3 linked regions of the Homo sapiens genome follow. Changing the gene in region 1 together with any one later gene gives a genetic interaction. Each region holds a gene or a part of one and is shown in the gene's direction. Other genes may lie near its edges. The genes, in order: ITGB7, CFTR and LCK.

What was found.
Region 2: changes in ITGB7 (region 1) and CFTR together harm fitness more than expected from each alone (negative genetic interaction), as found in Homo sapiens cells (one study listed by BioGRID).
Region 3: changes in ITGB7 (region 1) and LCK together harm fitness more than expected from each alone (negative genetic interaction), as found in Homo sapiens cells (one large-scale study listed by BioGRID).

The regions. Positions count from the first base shown.
Region 1 is NC_000012.12:53,194,002-53,197,365, reverse strand, and holds part of ITGB7 (integrin beta-7 isoform a precursor), read left to right. Parts: intron 1-545; coding exon 546-787; intron 788-1,166; coding exon 1,167-1,325; intron 1,326-1,644; coding exon 1,645-1,740; intron 1,741-1,902; coding exon 1,903-1,992; intron 1,993-2,223; exon of another isoform or gene 2,224-3,021; coding exon 3,022-3,168; exon of another isoform or gene 3,169-3,364. UniProt on the Homo sapiens protein: Integrin ITGA4/ITGB7 (alpha-4/beta-7) (Peyer patches-specific homing receptor LPAM-1) is an adhesion molecule that mediates lymphocyte migration and homing to gut-associated lymphoid tissue (GALT).
Region 2 is NC_000007.14:117,486,509-117,490,158, forward strand, and holds part of CFTR (cystic fibrosis transmembrane conductance regulator), read left to right. Parts: intron 1-3,650. UniProt on the Homo sapiens protein: Epithelial ion channel that plays an important role in the regulation of epithelial ion and water transport and fluid homeostasis. Mediates the transport of chloride ions across the cell membrane.
Region 3 is NC_000001.11:32,271,615-32,275,264, forward strand, and holds part of LCK (tyrosine-protein kinase Lck), read left to right. Parts: intron 1-2,506; exon of another isoform or gene 2,507-2,583; coding exon of another isoform or gene 2,584-2,715; coding exon 2,716-2,820; intron 2,821-3,122; coding exon 3,123-3,204; coding exon of another isoform or gene 3,205-3,378; coding exon 3,379-3,469; intron 3,470-3,650. UniProt on the Homo sapiens protein: Non-receptor tyrosine-protein kinase that plays an essential role in the selection and maturation of developing T-cells in the thymus and in the function of mature T-cells. Plays a key role in T-cell antigen receptor (TCR)-linked signal transduction pathways.

The DNA.
Region 1 (3,364 bases):
CCACAGGTTCGTTCCTGCATCTCTCCCTAGACACCCATCTTCTAGGTCAGAGCTGGAGAGGACTCAAGAGACTATCCGTTTTACAGGCCTGAGACCCAGCGTCTGGAGAGACTGTGCTCAGGCACTCTCTGGGCCTGGACAGCTGCCCTGGGCCTACCAACCTGGAACCTGCCCTGATGCAAGTCTCCCTGGACAAGACCTAGATGCCACTGTCCCTGGCTCCACATTCTGTGCCAACTCTCCTCTATTCAAATTTCCTTCCTTTGCCTCATGCTGCTACCATATCCTATACCCGGGCCTTCTTCCGCCTTCTGGAAGTTCCCATTTGCCCAGGAAGTTGTGTCCTCCTCTTAATGTCTTCTACCTGCCACTTCCCTGAGCCAGTGGTCTCACTGCTTTGCTTGCCAGTTACCAGGTCCCTGCCCCCTAGGTGCACCCTCTCCCATCACCGTCCTCCCCACCCCACTTCCCATAGAGCGCTCTCATGGGTCCTCTGTTGCTGCCCTGCGACTTCTGGCACAACCTTCATTCCTCTCCTCTCCCAGGTTTTGGTTCCTTTGTGGACAAAACGGTGCTGCCCTTTGTGAGCACAGTACCCTCCAAACTGCGCCACCCCTGCCCCACCCGGCTGGAGCGCTGCCAGTCACCATTCAGCTTTCACCATGTGCTGTCCCTGACGGGGGACGCACAAGCCTTCGAGCGGGAGGTGGGGCGCCAGAGTGTGTCCGGCAATCTGGACTCGCCTGAAGGTGGCTTCGATGCCATTCTGCAGGCTGCACTCTGCCAGGTGAGGAGGTGGGGCGGGGATCTGAGCCTGGAGGTCTGTTTGGGAACAGGACTGCCCCTTATGGTTGTGTAGTGCACAGTTCTAGGGGGTGCCATTCATACCATAGTTGCTGTAGTTTGTATATTTAGCAATTACCTGGTGGGTTGGAGTAAAATATCTTGAGGAGGAGGCATGTTTTTCGAATTCACAAGTAAGCCTCCACTAGCAGCAGCCTTCTTTAGGGGGCTGGAGAGAGCAGGGAGAAGCAAGGTACTGGAGGCAAGGGGATGGACAAGCTGACTCAGAGTGAGGCTGGCCACATTCTTGGCTCACAGAGCTGGCTGGGGTGGCTCAAGGGCCATGCCCAGGTGCATAGCCTACCACCCCCACTGTAACTCAGGAGCAGATTGGCTGGAGAAATGTGTCCCGGCTGCTGGTGTTCACTTCAGACGACACATTCCATACAGCTGGGGACGGGAAGTTGGGCGGCATTTTCATGCCCAGTGATGGGCACTGCCACTTGGACAGCAATGGCCTCTACAGTCGCAGCACAGAGTTTGTGAGTCCCTATTGTCACCCTGCCTCTCCCCATTTCAGCCACACCTCTTTCCTTCCAGGACTCCCACTCCCAGCCTTACAGTCCTCACCAGTAACCACCCTGTAGACACCCTGCCATCTTCTCCAGCAGTTCCTCCTTTCAGCTGCCGAGACAGGACACCTTTGTCACCCCATTCCCTACCTCCTTCCTATTCCATAGCAAGCCTCCAGGGCTCCTCCAGCTGGTGGAACCTTGGTTCCTGGATTCCCTGGGCTGAGGGCACCTTGCATGTTGTGGGGGAAACCTGTGGGGCTCACCTTGTCCCTGCTCCCTGTCCCAGGACTACCCTTCTGTGGGTCAGGTAGCCCAGGCCCTCTCTGCAGCAAATATCCAGCCCATCTTTGCTGTCACCAGTGCCGCACTGCCTGTCTACCAGGTGAGAGCTGTCTACATGTCAGATCCCCCAGCCCCATCCCAACCTTTCTCAATTCCCCCAAAGATACATTCTCCGTCCCCCATATGCCCTCCTTCCAGACCTCCGGGAGCCCATTTTCCTAGAGCTGTGACCCACCATTTCCCTTAACTCCCCAAAACTCAGGAGCTGAGTAAACTGATTCCTAAGTCTGCAGTTGGGGAGCTGAGTGAGGACTCCAGCAACGTGGTACAGCTCATCATGGATGCTTATAATGTGAGGGGCCAGGGGAAGGGGAGATGGTGAGGGTGGGCACTAGGGAAAGGTGGAAAGGGGCCCTTGGGTGGGGTGGCAGAACTAAGAGGAAATGGTCACTTTTTGGTCTAACATTCCACAGCTCCTACCTATAGTCTGCATGTGGCTGTCATTAACTGTTCAATCTTACATTCATAAATCTTAAAACATCTGACATGCAGACAGCATGGAGCTCTGCTCTGGGCAAGAAAGGAAAGTTTCAATCACTGAGCTTTTATTTCATGCGCCCACCATCCTAGGTGTACATACTGTTTGCTACTTCATTTAACCCTGCCAAAAGCCTTGCTTCATAACTGTTACCATCCCTATTTTACAGATGAGGAAACCCACACAAGGAGGCTAAGTGACTTGTCCAAGGTCACAAAGATAACAAACAGAAGGGCTGGCATTTGTCCCCAGTCAGTCTGTACATAAACAATGTGAGATCTGGAGCCTGCTTTCACTAAGTTTATAAATAATTCAGAGCTATTCTTCACAAGAACCATAGAATTTTACAGGTAGAAGGAACCATAAAAATTCTTAGTGGTTTAGGTCTTACCTCTGCAACTAGGCTGTAGGCTTCTTGATAACAGGGAGCATCTCCTAAACCTATGGCAAGAAAATCTGAGACAGTATCAAATTTCCCAAGATAAACTCTGTAATGAATCTGCCCTTTAGACCTGGCATGCACCCAGGTTATGTGTCCTGATGTGGGGCTTCACAAACATGGTCTCTGTACATTTACAGCACCTGGCCAGCCTGTGACCCTCAGTGGCCCTTGCTGGCAGCTGCACTGAAATGCTGTATTAGAGGCCTCTGGATCCTGTATGTTCTATGCAAGGTTCTCACGGGTCCTCCCTCCAGAAATGCCTCGACTGGGCAGAATGGAAGGAGCCCCAGGTGGCAGAGGGCAGGGTGCTGGCAGAATTGGGAACACCTGGAGAGGACATAAGGTGGGGTTGGAGTCCTTTTCTGCCTTCACGTGGTTATCCACTCGCTCTCTTCCCATAGAGCCTGTCTTCCACCGTGACCCTTGAACACTCTTCACTCCCTCCTGGGGTCCACATTTCTTACGAATCCCAGTGTGAGGGTCCTGAGAAGAGGGAGGGTAAGGCTGAGGATCGAGGACAGTGCAACCACGTCCGAATCAACCAGACGGTGAGAGCCAGCAAGCACAGGCAGAAGGCGGGCAGGGGGAGGTGGGAGTGGGAAATTAAGCAGGCAGGAAAAGATGGGTGGCAGGTACAGGGAGTGACATGAGAGCCTGAGGTAGTCCTCCATCCATCCTTCCTGGAGCAGTCTGAGTGGCTTCCTCAGGCATGTTTCTAGGAGTTGGGTGTTAACATGACCCCAT
Region 2 (3,650 bases), on another chromosome or scaffold:
CTAAAGGAGGTTATTCAATTAGAATTATCCAAAGAGGGTAGGGATGGGCTAGGAAAAATTTAAACAGGTAGTGTGGAGGACTGACAGGATAAGTAAGCATGGCACCTTCAAAATATCCTGAGAAGTTCCCTATGACGGGAACATAAAATATGTGACAGAGATTTGTGGGAGATGGGTCTGGAAACTCTAGCAGGGGCCAGATCGTAAGGGGGCTTTGTAGGCTTTGTAGGCTTTGTTTGGGCTTTATCATACTGGAAGTGAAAAGCCATGGCTTTTAAACAGGAGAGGGACATAATCAGTTCATATACTGTTGCAGTTTTGTAAAAGAAAAGATGAGCTGAAAGAGTGGCCATGGTGGAGGTGGGTGGGGTGGGGGGGAGGGGGCGGGGAGAGAGAGAGAGAGAGAGAGATTTGAAAGACATTTAGGAGGTAAAATCAACTGGTTTGGTAATCAATTAGTAGTTGAAGGTGAAGGAAAGAGAAGAGTTAAGGATAACATCTATATTTGTTGATTTGGATAATAGAGGGGACAGTGGTGCTGCTTATTGAATGAGAAAATTTAATCGGAGAAGAAGGCATGGAGCAGGAGTGCAGACCTATGTGACTCTACTTCTCTCAAAACCAGAAACGGAAATGATGTATATGGCTCAGGGTTAGGTAATATGGTTATTTGAAAATGTATTAAAGTGATTTAGAGCTTAGTCTTAGGTAAGAGATATAAGATGTCTGAGGTGACAGTTTTATAAATATGTAGAGTGCCCACTTGTTTGGCCTTATTGTGGCATAGTGTGACCTGAGAGTGTTAGGAAGAAGCAGCTGAGTTCTAGGGACAGTACTGGTTAAATTCTACTTAGAAATTATACTTAGAACTCTCCTATATAACCTGCTAACTGATGTCTGAACCTCCTGATAACTTCACTCCTTTAGGCAGTGCTTTTCACATCACGGGACACAACATATGAGAGATCATAGAAATTCAATGTGGTATGAAAATCTGCTTGGGACTTCAGATATTGTCTCCAGTGATTGAATAAAAATAGGAGCTCACCTACTATGATGAGGTTTCTGTGTGTGTTAAAAGAAGGTTTTCATTACTTTTGAAAAGGTTATGTATCCTTGTTTTATGTTAAAACTTTGAGCTTTGTTAAATATGCAGAGTTCTCTTTCTTAGCATGGACTACAGAGGTGCAACTACCTCCTACCTGACTTCACATCTACTCCCAAATGCCTAGTGAAGGCTTAATAATTTCAAAAAGGGACTCTAGAATTTCATTTGATACCAGTCAGACAAATGTGTGAAAATTAAGCATAATAGGCAGAATCCCAGGGGTACTGACAGCTGTATTAAGAGGTGATTCAAGGGCTAAACCTTAGAGTCCAGCATTGGTTATGGGTGTGACAAGAAAATGAAGCCTATGTTGGCTGGGATTAGCAACCACAGTTCTAGAGGAAGCAAGGTGGAGAAACTATATAGGGGGCTCCCTTTGTACGTTTTATTTATTTTAAACATCTCTATAAACTCTAGAAATTAAAACAACAATACCAACACAAAAGCATCACTTTTTCGACCAAAGACCATTGCTATACTTTTTTGTGTAAAGGGCTAGATAGTAAATATTTTCAGCTTTGTGGGCCACATAAGTCTCTGCAATAGACAATATGCAAACAAATAAGCATGGCTGTGTTTCAATTAAACTTTATTATGAACATTAAAATTTGAATTTCATATAACTTTTACATGTTGCAAAATATTCTTTATTTAAATTCTATTGCAATATGCTTTAAAAGATACAGTTTTTAGTCTTTCTTAGTTTAAAATAAAATCTAGAAAAAATTTTAAGTCTTCTATAACTTTTTTTCGGTAACTGAATAATTTTAAAAGTAAGTGAAACATTTAGACATGCAAAATGGACTTTTCAGAAGAAGAAAATGGTAGCTTAACAGTTATTAGATTATTGTCCAGAATAATTTTTGACTTATAAGTCTCTGTTGACCATTTCATTGCCTCTTTTTTTGGAATATGCATCTTTTAATGTGTCCTTCAAGGCAAAGGCTCTATCTTATCTATCTTGTGTCTTGCATTTTCCCAGGGCAATGTTTTTCACAATTTTTTTAAAAAACAATACTGTAATCAATTTTCAAATAAAATTTTCCATGGGACCGCAGTGTATACAAATAGCAGTGACAATAAAAGATAATAACTCTCCCATAAATACAAAGAAACAGTTAACCTAGTGCTCTAAAGTAAAGGCTACAGTGATTTTGTATAACATTTATATGTAATTTTCTTGATCCTACATGGTTGTGTTTTTCACAGTGTTATGTTTCTGAAATCGAGATGCCTTTTATAATTGATGTCAAAAGAAACTTGTCAGCCACAAGGCCCAGGAATAAGTTGTAATATGGGAACTTAGCAATACATAAAGGTATATATACTCCTGTGACCTCAGCTGAATTATTTGCATTGGTTGCATCCCACAAGGTTGACTCTTAAATAAATTTAGTTTGTTGCTTGAAATTTCTTGGGATAAATTACTTTGTGATGTAGTTTTGAAAAAAAAACAGGTAATATTTAGTCTGAAGTTTGTCTGACATACTAAGCAATGTAATTAAAGTAGAAGTCGCCTAAGCTCAGCACTTTATTATGCCTTGAAATTATACTGCCTGTCCTACAGGTGAAGGTGTTATGAATGCAGTTTGTCACTGTAACTCTATTCATAGCTCTGAAAGGCTGAGAGTGACTCAGAAGAATATTTTTGCTCTGAATATGAAGAACGCTTAGACTAAAACTTTAATTACGATGCTGAAGAAGAAAGTGGTAGGTGATTGCATGAATAAGTATGTAATATTGTTAATTTCTAAAAACTGTGTATAGTTAATGTAGTGCTTCTTTTTGGAAAGGCTATTGTTAAATTGATGGTAAATTCTATAACCAATATCACCTTAAAGCAAGTACGCATGATAAAGTATTATAAAACCATGATAATATCATATGTGGCTTATTATTGTTCCCTGAGTGTTGTACAACTCTGTTATGCTGTGATGAAACCTCATGCAAACAGGTATGTCAAAGATATGATGGGCTGTTAACTGAGCTTGGCCCACATATGGTGTAGTGACATGCTCACTAATGCAGTGCAGAGATAACCAATAACAGATCATAACAGGTTTAAATATGTGCAAGGAGATGTCAGCAGAAGCTTTCCTACATAGTGAATACTAAACAAGCCTGACAGCCCAGGATCATGTTCGGATCAATCTAGTGTGCTAAAATTAACATATAGTCCTACATTTGAGAATGTGTGATTTTCTTGGTTCCTGTCTATAAAATAATATTTTAAAATACATACATTTCAAATCAGAAGTTGGTGAATTCACTGAAATATTTCTAGAGAACACTAGGTATTGGGGCTCATAGTGTGAAAACCACTGACTTAATTCTTCCCCCATCTTGGTTGTTCCTGATCTTCCCTTGTGTCCCCATTCCAGCCATTTGTATCCTTAGAAAATGATCTCATATTCTACTTCATCTTTATCTTCATTGTCAACTGTCAGGTAGCAATATATGATGGAAGAAGCATGTACTTTGGAATCAGACAGACCTGGCTGGAATCCTAACTCTGTCACTTATTAACAATGTGATCTTAGGC
Region 3 (3,650 bases), on another chromosome or scaffold:
GATTGGGTCATTGCACTGCAGTCTGGGCAAGAGAGTGACACTTTATCTCAAAAATAAATCAACAAATAATAAAATTGGAGATTAGGCTTGCTGGTTTCTAAGACCTTTGCAGATGGGAGACTCTATGCATTAACACTGCATGTTCCAGTTGACATTTATTAACTAATTTTGGGTGCTGGTGGCTTTCAGACAAATAAACTACAGCTTCTGCTCTTGATGAACCCCCACTCTCATCAAAGGTATGGGAGAGGCAGTGGGACCCTGGGGCTGACATGTAAATCAGTAATCATGGAACTCTGTGTCTAAGTTGATTATTGAGGTCTGAATAGAATGTTGCAGGAGACTGGGGTGAGAGGGAAGCAAAGAGCATTGGGAAGTCTTCAGACTAGGTGATATTTAGGCCAGGTGCCTGTAATCCGAGCACTTTGGGAGGCTGAGGCAGGAGAATTGCTTGAGGCCAGGAGTTCGAGACCAGCCTGGCCAACATGGTGAAACCCTGTCTCTACTAAAAATACAAAAGTTAGCCAAGCGTGATGGTGCATGCCTGTAATCCCAACTACTCAGGAGGCCGAGGCAGGAGAATTGCTTGAACCTGGGAGGTAGAGGTTGCAGGAAAAAAAAAAAAGGTAATATTTCAGCTGAGCCTTGAAGGTTGAGTTAGAATTCAGCAGTTGGACAAAAGAGAGCATGCCGACTGGGTTCGGTGGTGCATGCCTATAATCCTAGCATTTGGGGAGGCCAAGGCAGGAGGATTGCTTGAGCCCAGGAGTTCGAGATCAGACTGGGCAACATAGTGAGACCTCATCTCTACAAAAAAATAATCAGCTGGGCATGATGGTGTGCACCTTTAGTCTCAGCTACTGGGGAGGTTGAGGTGGGAAGATTGCTTGAGCCCAGGAGGTCTAAGGGGATTGCGCCACTGCACTTCAGCCTGGGAGAGGAAGGGAGACCCTGTCTCAAGAGAGAGAGAGAAAGAGAGAGAGAGAGAGAAAGAGAGAGAGAGAGAGAAAGAGAGAGAGAGAGAGAGAGAGAGAGCGAGAGAGCGCACGCATTTCAAAGCAGGGAGAACCACAAGTACAAAGGCATTAAGTAAGAAAATAGCATGGGGTGTTTGGGAAAGGCAAGAATAGTTCAGAACACAGGCTGTGTGTGTGGGGGTGTGTGGGGGTGCCTGTGTGTGGGTGTTTGTGTGTGTGTGAGTGTGGGTGTGTGGGGGTATCTATGGAGGGGATGCCTGTGTGTGTGTGTAAGGTGAGTGTGTGGATGTGTGCATGGGTGTGGGTGAGTGTGTGGAGGTGCCTGTGTGTGTGTATGAATGTGTGTTGGGGAGGGGAGAATGTGTGTGTGTGGGGTGAGTGCGTGTGTGTGGGGGTGAATGCGTGTGTGTGTGTATGTGGGTGTGACTGTGTGGGTGTGTGGACGAGTGTGTGTGTTCCTGGGTGTGGGAGCCTGTGTGTGTAGGGGGAGTATGTATAGGGTGTGTGCATGAATGTGTGTGTGGGTACGTGTGTGAGAGTGGGTGCCTGTGTGTGGGGGGTGAGTGTGTGTGTGGGGGGGCACTTGTGGAGGGTGAGTGTATGTGTTTACTGAGTGTGAGTGTGGGTGCCTGTGTGTGGGAGGGTGAGTCTGTGTGTGAGTGTGTGGGGGAGTACCTGTGAGGGGTGAGTGTGTGTGTTTATGTGAAAGTGTGTGTGTGTGGATGCCTCTGTGGAGGTGGGATAGGGGGTGCCTCTGTGTGTGTGTGTGAGAGTGTGTGTGTGTAGGGTGTGTATATGTATAGGGTGTGTGTGAGTGTGTGTGTGTGAGAGAGTGTGTGTGTGGCAGAATAGACTGCGGAGGTGGATTTCATCTTGATATGAAAGGTCTGGAATGCATGGTACATTAAACTTTGAGGACAGCGCTTTCCAAGCACTCTGAGGAGCAGCCCTAGAGAAGGAGGAGCTGCAGGGACTCCGGGGGCTTCAAAGTGAGGGCCCCACTCTGCTTCAGGCAAAACAGGCACACATTTATCACTTTATCTATGGAGTTCTGCTTGATTTCATCAGACAAAAAATTTCCACTGCTAAAACAGGCAAATAAACAAAAAAAAAGTTATGGCCAACAGAGTCACTGGAGGGTTTTCTGCTGGGGAGAAGCAAGCCCGTGTTTGAAGGAACCCTGTGAGATGACTGTGGGCTGTGTGAGGGGAACAGCGGGGGCTTGATGGTGGACTTCGGGAGCAGAAGCCTCTTTCTCAGCCTCCTCAGCTAGACAGGGGAATTATAATAGGAGGTGTGGCGTGCACACCTCTCCAGTAGGGGAGGGTCTGATAAGTCAGGTCTCTCCCAGGCTTGGGAAAGTGTGTGTCATCTCTAGGAGGTGGTCCTCCCAACACAGGGTACTGGCAGAGGGAGAGGGAGGGGGCAGAGGCAGGAAGTGGGTAACTAGACTAACAAAGGTGCCTGTGGCGGTTTGCCCATCCCAGGTGGGAGGGTGGGGCTAGGGCTCAGGGGCCGTGTGTGAATTTACTTGTAGCCTGAGGGCTCAGAGGGAGCACCGGTTTGGAGCTGGGACCCCCTATTTTAGCTTTTCTGTGGCTGGTGAATGGGGATCCCAGGATCTCACAATCTCAGGTACTTTTGGAACTTTCCAGGGCAAGGCCCCATTATATCTGATGTTGGGGGAGCAGATCTTGGGGGAGCCCCTTCAGCCCCCTCTTCCATTCCCTCAGGGACCATGGGCTGTGGCTGCAGCTCACACCCGGAAGATGACTGGATGGAAAACATCGATGTGTGTGAGAACTGCCATTATCCCATAGTCCCACTGGATGGCAAGGGCACGGTAAGAGGCGAGACAGGGGCCTTGGTGAGGGAGTTGGGTAGAGAATGCAACCCAGGAGAAAGAAATGACCAGCACTACAGGCCCTTGAAAGAATAGAGTGGCCCTCTCCCCTGAAATACAGAAAGGAAAAGAGGCCCAGAGAGGGGAAGGGAATCTCCTAAGATCACACAGAAAGTAGTTGGTAAACTCAGGGATAACATCTAACCAGGCTGGAGAGGCTGAGAGCAGAGCAGGGGGGAAGGGGGCCAGGGTCTGACCCAATCTTCTGCTTTCTGACCCCACCCTCATCCCCCACTCCACAGCTGCTCATCCGAAATGGCTCTGAGGTGCGGGACCCACTGGTTACCTACGAAGGCTCCAATCCGCCGGCTTCCCCACTGCAAGGTGACCCCAGGCAGCAGGGCCTGAAAGACAAGGCCTGCGGATCCCTGGCTGTTGGCTTCCACCTCTCCCCCACCTACTTTCTCCCCGGTCTTGCCTTCCTTGTCCCCCACCCTGTAACTCCAGGCTTCCTGCCGATCCCAGCTCGGTTCTCCCTGATGCCCCTTGTCTTTACAGACAACCTGGTTATCGCTCTGCACAGCTATGAGCCCTCTCACGACGGAGATCTGGGCTTTGAGAAGGGGGAACAGCTCCGCATCCTGGAGCAGTGAGTCCCTCTCCACCTTGCTCTGGCGGAGTCCGTGAGGGAGCGGCGATCTCCGCGACCCGCAGCCCTCCTGCGGCCCTTGACCAGCTCGGGGTGGCCGCCCTTGGGACAAAATTCGAGGCTCAGTATTGCTGAGCCAGGGTTGGGGGAGGCTGGCTTAAGGGGTGGAGGGGTCTTTGAG